2 separate regions of the Homo sapiens genome follow, and region 2 is linked to region 1. A link means that fine-mapping ties the variant in region 1 to the expression of a gene that starts in the linked region. Tissue or cell type: esophagus muscle. Region 1 holds a variant in brackets; the other region holds the start of a gene. All regions are shown on one strand. Distances are between the middles of the regions.

Region 1 (5,149 bases):
TGAGGAAGCTTATTCTATCTCTCTTCCTTTTTGTCTGTTAAACTTTCTGCTCCTTAACCCACTCCACGTGTGTGTCCATGTTGTTAATCATCGGCGCGAGACAACTAACTACAGGTATTGCCCCAGAGGAAGTGGTTTCACTTTGAATGGTTTGGCACTATTGTCAAATATCATACTTGTTATAAGTCTTTGCAGATTTTCTATTTATTCTTGAGTCAGTTTTGGTAGTTTGTGTGTTTGTAGGAATTGTTTTTCAATGTATTAGGGCATCTAATTTGTTGAAATACAATGTTCATAGTATTTTCTTATAATCCTTTTTATTTCTGTCAAATCAGTGGTAACATCCCCTCTTCTTTTTCTAAAAAAATAATTTCAGCTTTTATTTTTGATTCAGGGGATACATGTGCAGGTTTGTTACATGAGTATATTGCATGATGTTGAGGTTTGAGATCTGAATGGTCCTGTCATCCGGATGGGATACTAGTGAACATAGTACCCAACAGTTAGTTTTTCAACCCTTGCCCCCTTCCCTACCTCCCCCCATCAGTCCCTAGTGCCTATTATTGCCATCTTTATGTCCATGAGTACCCAATGTTTAGCTACCACTATAAGTGAGTACATGCAGTATTTGGTGTTCTGTTCCTATGTTAATTAACTTAGGATAATGGCCTCCAGCTGCATCCTTGTTGCTGCAAAGGACATGATTTCATTCTTTTTATGTCTGCACGGTATGCCACGGTGTATGTGTGCCACATTTTCTTTATCCAGTCCACCATTGATAGGCACCTAGGTTGATTCCATGTCTTCACTACAGTGAATATTGCTGTGATGAATATATGAGTGAATGTGTCTTTTTGGTAGAACAGTTTATTTTCTTTTGGATGTATGCCAGTAATGGGATTGCTGGGTCAAATGATAATTCTGTTTTAAGTTCTTTGAGAATTCTCCAAATTGCTCTCCAAAGTGGCTGAACTAATTGACATTTCCACCAACAGTGTGTAAGTGTCCTTTCTTCTGCAGCCTCACCAGCATCTGTTGTTTTTTGATTTATTAATAATAGCTATTCTGATGGGTGTGAGATGGTATCTCATTGTGGTTTTGATTTGCATTTCTCTGATGATTAGTGATATTGAACATTTTTTCAAATGTTTGTTGGCCACTTGTATGTCTCCTTTTGAAAAGTGTCTGTTCATGTGTTTTTTGCCTGCTTTTTAATGGAGTTACTTGTTTTTTATTTCTTGAATTGTTTCCTTATAGATTCTGGATAGTAGGCCTTTGTTGGATGCATAGTTTGTGAATATTTTCTCCCATTCTGTGGGTTGTCTATTTACTCTGTTTATAGCTTCTTTTGCTATGCAAAAGTGCTTTAGTTTACTTGGGTCCCAATTGTCAATTTTTGTTTTTGTTGCAATTGCTTTTGAGGACTTACTCACAAACTCTTTCTTGAGGCTGATGTCCAGAATGGTGTTTCCTAGATTTTCTAGGGTTCTTATAGTTTGATATCTTACATTTAAATCTTTAACCCATCTTCAGTTAATTTTTGTATATGATAAAATGTTTGTATATGATAACCCATCTTCAGATAATTTTTGTATATGATATGTAGGGGCCCAGTTTCATTCTTCTGCATATAGCTAGTTAGCTATCTCAGCACCATTTACTGAATAGGGAGTCCTTTCCCCATTGCTTATTTTTGTCAAGTTTGTAAGAGATCAAATGGCCATAGGTGTGCAGCTTTATTTCTGGGCTCTCTATTCTTTTCCATTGGTCTATGTGTCTGGTTTTTTTTTTTTTTTTTTTTTTTTTTTACCAGTATTATCCCCTCTTTCATTTCTTATTTTAGTTTTTGATATTCCCTCTTTTGTTAGTCTGGCTAAAAGTTTGTCAACTTTGTTGATCTTTCAGAGAACCACATTTTGGATCTGCTGATAGTTTATATTGCTTTCCTATTCTCTATTTTGTTTGTCTCCATTCTTTATTATTTCCTTCCTTCTGCTAGCTTTGGTCTAGTTTCCTCTCCTTTGCTAGTTTCTAAATGTGTAAGTTCGATTATTGATTTTGCACATTTCTTCTTTTTTAATGTAGGTGTTTTTAGGTATAGATTTTCCTCTGAGCATTGTTTTTGCTGCATTTCATAGGTTTTGGGAGTTTGTGTCTTCATTTTAATGCATCTCTAAGTATTTTCTAGTTTCCCTGGTGATATCTTCTTCAATCCATTTGTTGTTTAACAGCATATTATTTATTTCCGCATATTTGTGAATTTCCCAGTTTCCCTTCTGCTATTGGTTTCTAATTTCATTTCATGATTGTGAAAAGTAAAGTAGAGGTTCCTCTTCAAAGACTTTCCTCCCCATCTAATTAGGAAGAAATAGTAACTTCTCTTAGAAGCAAAATTTATTCAAAGACCTGGGCTAACATTCTTAAATATCTGTGAGCTGTAATAAAGAAATCAATGTACTTTATGTTCTTAGCTTCCACAATTTAGCCTAAATATTTGCCCTGGCATGCTTATACTGGTCCAAGCAAGCATTAGGATAGCCTGTTCCTTTTCCTTATTTGAAGGTGTTTTTACCTTTCTCAGCATTCCATAAATTACTTCCTCCTTCCTTTGTTCTCCTCTGCCTTTGCCTCTTTTAAAAAGTTCTAAGTTGCTAGCCAATCAGGACTAATACAGAATGTGAGGTTCCATTCCAGCCAATGGAGACTGGACATAGCAGTAGGGTGGACATGTCAGGTTATAAATGACCCTGTCTCCCTTGTTCAGTGTACTCTCATGGCAGAACAGCTGGCGAGTGTACCCTTTCTGCAGAAAGTAAAAATGCCCTTGCTGAGGAAATTAAATTTATGTTCAAGTAAATTTCTTTATGGCACTGGGAAACAAGCATTTCTAACAATTTTGGTGGAAATCCGTACATGGATA[C/T]GTTCTCTTCTGGGGGCGGTCTCCAGTCCTTTCTCATGAGGGAGCACACTCCTCTGCCTCATTGCAGTGGCCTCAGGGATATGGAATTAAGATCCACCTGGTGTGATGAATAAACCCAGACTCTCAGCAACGCAGGAAAAAAAAAACAAAAACTGGCTGGCGATCTGGAGTAAAGGATCCTCACATCCACGTGAACCAGGAAACTCTGTGCCCAAATCGACGAAAAAAAAACACTGGGAGAGCCGGTAAAGTATTTCCTTGGGGTGGTTAAAAAGAGGTGAGAAATCCCCATTGGGGGGGTTAAACCTTAAAAAGAGGTAAGAAATCCCCATTGTAGGGGTTGAACCTCAAAAAGAGGTGAGAAATCCCCATTGGGGGATTGAACCTCAAAGAGGTGAGAAATCCCCATTGTGGGGGTTGAATCTCACACAAACCTCCGGTAGTAAATATATATTCAAAACTCCCCTTTCCTCTCTTCTCAGGAAAAGAAAAAGGCTAAGCTCCACTCCCACCAGTTGCTCCCCTAGGGGAAGGGGAAGGAGAGGGGGGAAAACAGCAGCATAGGTGGCTGGCAGAGGCGAAGTCCAGCAGGGAGGAAAAAGAAACCAGGAAAGGAAGTCAGAGAGAAAGAGCAAAAACAGCAAGCGTGACACCAGACAGGCGCACCAAGGGTTAAGTCCCTCTCCCCAGCCCAGCTCTATGTGAAAAAGAGGGTGGGGAACGGCGCCAGGAGGAGAGCAGAGGAGGTGAAAGGGCATAATTATTGCAACTTGCAGCAGGCATCTGCCAAGCCTCTGGGCCAGTGATGGCCCGGGGTCTGGACTGCAGCCCCACAAATCCCACCCAGCCCAAGAAACTGAGTGTAAGAAGAAAGGAAAAAAGTAAAAAGGGAAATTGGGAAAAGAAAAAAAAAGCAGATGAAACAGACGGCAGTGTGTGTGTGGGGGCGGGACCCATGCCATTGCCCGGCCTTGCCGGCCGGCAGGAGCAGGAGAACTTGGGAGGGAAAAAGGAACAAGGGATGACGGAGAGAGAGAGAAAAAAAGAGAGTGCAAATGAGAGAGAGAAATAGAGGGAAAGAATAAGTAAGAGACAGAAATCAAAGAAAGACAGAGGGTGAAACTAGGAAAAGAAATAGTGTAAAAGGAAGGCAGAAAGTTAAGACATGTTGAAGATTGTCTGTGAAAGTCGTAAGAAAGGTTATAAAGGGAATTTATGCAAGAAATATTGTATAATTTAAAAGTAATTAGGCCTCCTGAATGTAAAACTATTAAAAAAACAGTTTATGTACAAAGTATGTAAGAAAAATAAAATATACTTTTAATAAAAGGATTATAAGGAGGCATAAGAATATGGATTTTTACCTACATTAAAAGGTTTAAAAATTTTTGTTTTAAAGGTTTAAGCAAGTTTTAACATGTTAATTGTAAAGGAAATTCTGTGTGTAAACATTTTGGCTAAAGGTAAAGGGTTTATCATCCAGTTTTGCTGTGAACTGAACATTAAAATAAAACCACAATAGTTTATTCTTAAAGCACTAACCTGCTCTTTAACAAAAAATTTAACATGTTAAAAAGAGTCTATAAAAATCTTACCTTATAGTCAGACATTAAAATTGGATAATATCTACAAGATTTTATTAAAATTAAGTTTAACATTAATAGCACATTAATATAAAGGTAAAATTTAACTTACCTGGTACAAAATCATACAAAAAGCATTGTCAAATATAAAATGGTGTTTAGCTTTCTTAAGGTCCGAGGGCAGCTGGGTAAGTCACAAGCTCCTCATCCCCAAGGCCACAATGTGCAGGGGAGATGAAGGCCACTAGAAGGCCAAGACCTTAAGAGGGGGCAGGGCTGCAGCATCCTGTGAGTGGTGCTGAGCAGGAATGGAGTGGGAGGCATCACCATGGGACCTCAAGCCCCAGAATATGCAGCAAAAATTATATACTTTTTATCTTCCACTTTCCCTTCCCTCAGAACTAAAAGTCTTTTAGCACGGGTACCAGCCCTAGAATTTCCAGTACACCAGCAGCAGCCTGGAAACCACATCCTCATCAAAAGACAGAAAGAAAAAAACTCGAGCCAGCCTGAGAAGGACCCTATTTTATGCTGTTAACCACTGAGACTGCCATCCTCACAGCTGAGAAAGGATGGACCCACCATACTCAAGTCAAGAAAACATCTTCCTCGTCAGAATCATGGGTTACTGTACTAGGATTAAGCC
Region 2 (5,149 bases), 28 kb before region 1:
AAGATCACACATGGTTAGTATTCAAAGTTGTGGATGAAATGAAATATATAGTATGTACTATTTACTTCATGCTTGTTTTACAATTTATAATCTCCCCTCACACCTCCCCCAAGTATATACTTTTCTCTAATTCCCAGCTCCATGGTTGCTTTAGAAATGGTTTACCCTCATCACGAAATTTAAGGTGACGTTAACAACTCAGTAATCAAGAGAAATACCTTTTTTTTTTTAAATTGAGACAAGGTCTCACTCTGTCTCCTAGGCTGGAGTGCAGTGGTGTGATTTCAGCTCACTGCAACCTCCGCCTCCGGGGTTCAGACGATTCTCGTGCCTCAGCCTCCCGAGTAGCTGCGATTACAGGCACATACCACCATGCCCAGTTGATTTTTGTATTTTTAGTAGAGATGGGGTTTTGCCATGTTGGCCAGGCTGGTCTCGAACTCCTGCCCGTCTCAGCCTCCCAAAGTGCTGGGATTTGGGGCATGAACCACCGCACCCGGCCAAGATGAATAATTTAATGCATTATTATTATTTTTATTATTATTATTTGAGACAGGGTCTCACTGTCGTCTATGTTGGAGTGCAGTGGCAGGATCACTGCTCACTGCAGCCTGCATGTCCTGGGCTCGAACGATCCTCCTGCCTCAGCCTTCCAAGTGGCTGGGAGTACAGGCACACACCACCACACCCACATGGCTAATTTTTTAAGTTTTATTTAGAGACGGGGTTTTGCCATGTTGCCCAGGCTGTTCTTGAACTCCTGGACTCAAGCAACCTTCCCACCTTGGCCTCCCAAAAGCGCTGGAATTACAGGCCTGAGCCACCGTGCCTGGCCCTAATGCACTATTTTAATAAATAACAATTAATGCAAAAATCTGTGATGAGGACCAGGCACTGTGGCTCAGGCCTGTAATCCCAGCAGTTTGGGAGGCCGAGGCAGGCAAATTGCTTGAGCCCAGGAGTTTGAGACTAGCCTGGGCAACACGGCGAAACCTTATCTCTACACACAAAAAAAATACAAAAATTAGCCAGGTGTGGTGGCCTGTGCCTGCAGTCCCAGCTACTCAGGGGGCTGACACGGGAGGATGGCTTGAACCCAGGAAGCAAATGTTGCAGAGAGCTGAAATCGCACTGCTGCACTCCAACCTGGGCCACAGAGAGAGACTCTGTCTCAAGACAAAACAAAAAAACCAGAAAAACAAAAAACCAACCAAACAAACAAAAAAAAACTATGATGAACAAATTATCAAAATTTTAAATAAAGGAAGGATCTAGCACTGTAGTTGCATGACAGTACCTCATTCTCCTTACCCCAATTTCAATAAAATTTTATTTATAAAAACAGACCACAGCTGGGTGTGGTGGCTCACTCCTATAATCCCAGCAACTCAGGAGGCTGAGATGGGAGGATTGCTTGGGTGACAGATCCCCCACTCAACAAAAACAACAACAACAACAAAAACAGGCCATCATCACAGGTAATAAAAGAAAAAATACATAACTTGGACTATATCAAAATTTAAAACTTCTGTATATCAAAAGATGCAATGAACAGAGTAAAAAGACAACTCATAGAATGGAAGGAAATATTTGCAAATCACATCTGATAAGGGGTTAATATCCAGAGTGTATAAAGAACTCCTACAACCCAATAACCAAAAAAAAAGAAAGAAAGAAAGAAAAAGCCACTCAGATTTTAAAATGGGTAAAGGACTTAAAGAGATATTTCTCCAAAGAAGATATACAAGTGGCCACTAAGCACATGAAAGGATGCACAACATCACTAATCATTAGGGAAAAGCAAATCGAAACTACAATGAAGTATCACCTCACACCCATTAGGATGGCTATGTAAAAAACCCCAGAAAATAACAAGTGTTGGTGAGGATGTGGAGAAACTGGAACCCCCATGTACTGTTGGTGTGCACCTGTATCTATAAAATGGAATATTATTTAGCCTTAAAAAGGAAGGAAATTCTAATATATGCTGCGATATGGATGAACCTTGAAGACCTTATGCTAAGTGAAATAAGTCAGTGACAAAAATGCAAATACTGTATGATTCTACTTACATGAGATACCTAGAGTAGTCAAAATCATAGAGACATAAAATAGTAGAATGGTGGTTGCCAAGGGCTGGGGAAAGGGGGAAAAGGGGAGTTGCTTAACTGGTATAGAGACTTAGCTTGGCAAGATGAGAAGAATTCTAGAGATCTATTGCACAACAATGTGAACATACTTAACACAACTGAACTCTATACTTAAAAAGTGGTTTGGACGGTAAATTTCATATTTCCGTGTATTTTACCACATCTTTATAAAAGGGAGGCACGGACTAGTTTCCAGGTTTCATTCACATAAACATTGCAATAAAACATTTACCTTGATGCCCAGGAGGTAAATATCCCCCTCCACACCAGCACAAAGGCAGGCAAGGACCCCCAGTGGCTTTTTCCTCATGATTGGGTGGGGCAAGGGAGAGAAAAAGATGCCTCGAAACGAACTTGGAGATCTCGTGGCTCCTGGAGCAGGCCACTTACCTTGTGGGCACATCAGGGTATTGAGTGTGTCGGAAAACACTTTCCAGCTCCTCCACCTGCAACAGCGTGAACTTCGTGCGCCGAGTTCGTGGCTGCATGTTCTCGGGCTGCGGACCCTCCATGGCCGCCTGGGCCGGCTCCTCCGGCGGGGGCTGCGGCTGCTGCCGAGGCTCCTGGTTTCCACCGCCGCCCTCGGGGATCATGCCGCCATCGCGGTTCATGCCGTTCTCGTGGTTCACACCGCCCTCAGGGTTCATATTACCCATGAGGCCTGGAGCTCCTTGGCCAACATGGCCTTCTGCGCTTGATGCTGCCCCCAGCTGAGGTGTGGGGCTTATTTTTACCTGGTATACACTCAGGCAGTAGAACACGGTGTCGTGGACGAGCGAACGCGCCATGGCTGGAGCGCTGCGCCCCTGCACAAACTCCGTGGCGTCTGCAGCTGGAGTGGGGGTTAGAGGGTGGAGCTAGTTCCTGTTCTCATGCTTGGTATTGGTTACAGTTGCAATGAGTGGGACTTGCTTATGCGCACAAGCAAGAGAGGGAATGGAGAGGAGTGGGGGGATGGGAAGTTGGGGGGTGCGGGTGGGGAGTGGGGGTGTTGCAGGTGGGAGTGGGGGGTTGTGAGTGTGGGGTGGGGTGCAGGTGGGGATGGGGGTGTGGGTGGAGGGTGGGGGGTGCACAGTGAGGGTGGGGGTTGCGGGTGAGGGTAGGGGTTGTGGGTTGGGGTGGGGGTTGCCGGTGGGGGTACATGGTGGGGGTGGGGGTAGCGGGTGGAGATGGGAGGTGTGGGTGGAGGGTGCGTGGTGGGGGTAGGGGTTGTGGGTGGGGGTGAGGGGTGTGGTATGGGTCGTGGGTGGGGGTGGCAGTTGAGGGTGGAGTGGGGTGGCCAAAACACAGGGGCAGTGTGGAGAAGAAAAGGGCCAATAGGAGGCATATATGTATGCAACATGGGGCCCCAGCTTGCAGCTTTGCTGACTACACCCTACTCGGGCCTAGTTATTACCCTGAGGAAAGCTGATTTGGGGGCTCAGAGGGGAGGTGAGATCTCACGGTGACCATAGGACGCCTTGAGTAAAAGTTTGGAGAATATCTCATGGCCTGACCCTCCATATTTGGCAGCATGCACAGGGCGCGGGCTATTAATTAAGCAGAAATGATTGACTGGGGGCTGCTTGTTCAGAGTTCCAGCAAAGGCACTGAAAGCAGAGCTGCCATGCTCTCTTCAGTGCTGGGATCGGGATCTTGGAGATGGGCATGCAGAGCATTCTGGGTGGTAAGATGTGCTCTGCAAGAAATCTAACGCACCCTTTGAGAAAGTCAACACAGAATAAACACGAGGCTGAATCTGTTAGCCTGAGACTGAATATCTTTGGCTATGCAAGAGAAACCTGTACTCATGGCAAAATGGAGTGCTATAAGGACAAGCAAAAAATAAATAAATAAATAAAATCGGGGATGGTATAGGAAGAGCACCAGTAAGGGCATACCTGCCAAAAATCTCCAATCTTGGGATGGAGATTTGGGATTTAAGGATATGCAGCTTACTGGATGTGGGGCCACTTCTGCTCCACAGAGCCTTGTAACTACACAGCCTTCCTACCACTGACCCCAATAAGCCCAATTACGAAGAAAAACCCTGAAGAGCCTGGTGCAGTGGCTCCTGCACTAGTCCCAGCTACTCAGGAGGCTGAGATGGGAGGATCACTTGAACCCAGGAGTTTGAGGCTGTGGTGAGCTAGAATCACATGGCAGCACTCCAGCCTGGGCAACAGACAGAGGCCCCTTTTCTTTAAAATAAATAATAAAATAAGAAATAAAATGAAAATGAAAGAAAGGAAAGCGCTAAGAGAGTCTGTCATGAGGAAGGGCATGGAGATGTCTTTTGAGGGTGGACAACTCATGAATCCTTAATTTTTCTAGAGATTGTGTGTGTGCTCTTAAGTGATGTTATATACTTTATTTTGTTTTTTAAAAATATTTTTAAAAATTTTATTTTTAAATGTTCTTTTAAAAACTTTCTGTATCTATTTATATCTATTGGTTATTTGAGGTTTTTTTGGCAGCATATATAAATATGCAGACCCTTTGAGTCTGTAGCCTACCAAGAGAGATAGCTCTCGTCTTCATGGTGATTCTGAGCATGGAAAGGCCCTTGCACTTGGCAGCATGACAAGGACTAAGCCACTCGCTCCATTAATTGACTGCCATCCACTGGGCTAAGTGAGATCCTTGCGTTCTATCCCTAGTGAGAGAAGAGAGAGGAAGAAGAAGAAAAATAGAAAGATAATAAGAAAATAGAAAAAGAAATGAATAAATGTACATTGTGGGGAGCAGGAAAGGACTACCAGTAATGGGAGGCATCAGCTAGGAGCACAGATCCGAAGCATGACTCACTGTGTGTCCTAGGACACTGGATGAATCTATCTGGTTCTCAGCTTCCTCACCTATAAAATGGAGATAACAACAGTGTCTCGATCATAGGGTTTTCATGAGAGTTCAATGAGGCAAGGCATACATGTAACTGAACACAGCTCCGACTGCTCACCAGTTGCAAAGTCCAGTGAACAAGAACGACGTCTGGTAGAAAGAAAGTGGCTTTATTCCAG

The links. PIP is the estimated chance that this variant, and not a neighbour inherited with it, causes the effect.
Region 2: it holds the start of RHOXF1, and the variant in region 1 is fine-mapped to the expression of RHOXF1 in esophagus muscle (GTEx, PIP above 0.99). The same link has a PIP of 0.9 or more in aorta, atrial appendage, ileum, left ventricle, stomach and transverse colon.

The regions. Positions count from the first base shown.
Region 1 is chrX:120,140,736-120,145,884 of GRCh38, forward strand. RHOXF1-AS1 (RHOXF1 antisense RNA 1) reads left to right here. Exons shown (of 5, transcript NR_131238.1): 4 at 2,988-3,165; 5 at 4,903-5,149. Among named protein-coding and RNA genes, the nearest start is that of RHOXF2, 15 kb to the right of the region's middle. The variant C/T (reference allele first, on the strand shown) is at 2,921.
Region 2 is chrX:120,112,925-120,118,073 of GRCh38, forward strand. It overlaps RHOXF1 (Rhox homeobox family member 1), which reads right to left and starts at 2,989. Exons shown (of 3, transcript NM_139282.3): 1 at 2,541-2,989. The coding sequence starts at 2,938. The region is part of intron 1 of RHOXF1-AS1 (RHOXF1 antisense RNA 1); the gene reads left to right. It overlaps LINC01402 (long intergenic non-protein coding RNA 1402), which reads right to left. Exons shown (of 3, transcript NR_126557.1): 2 at 4,938-4,987; 3 at 4,718-4,785.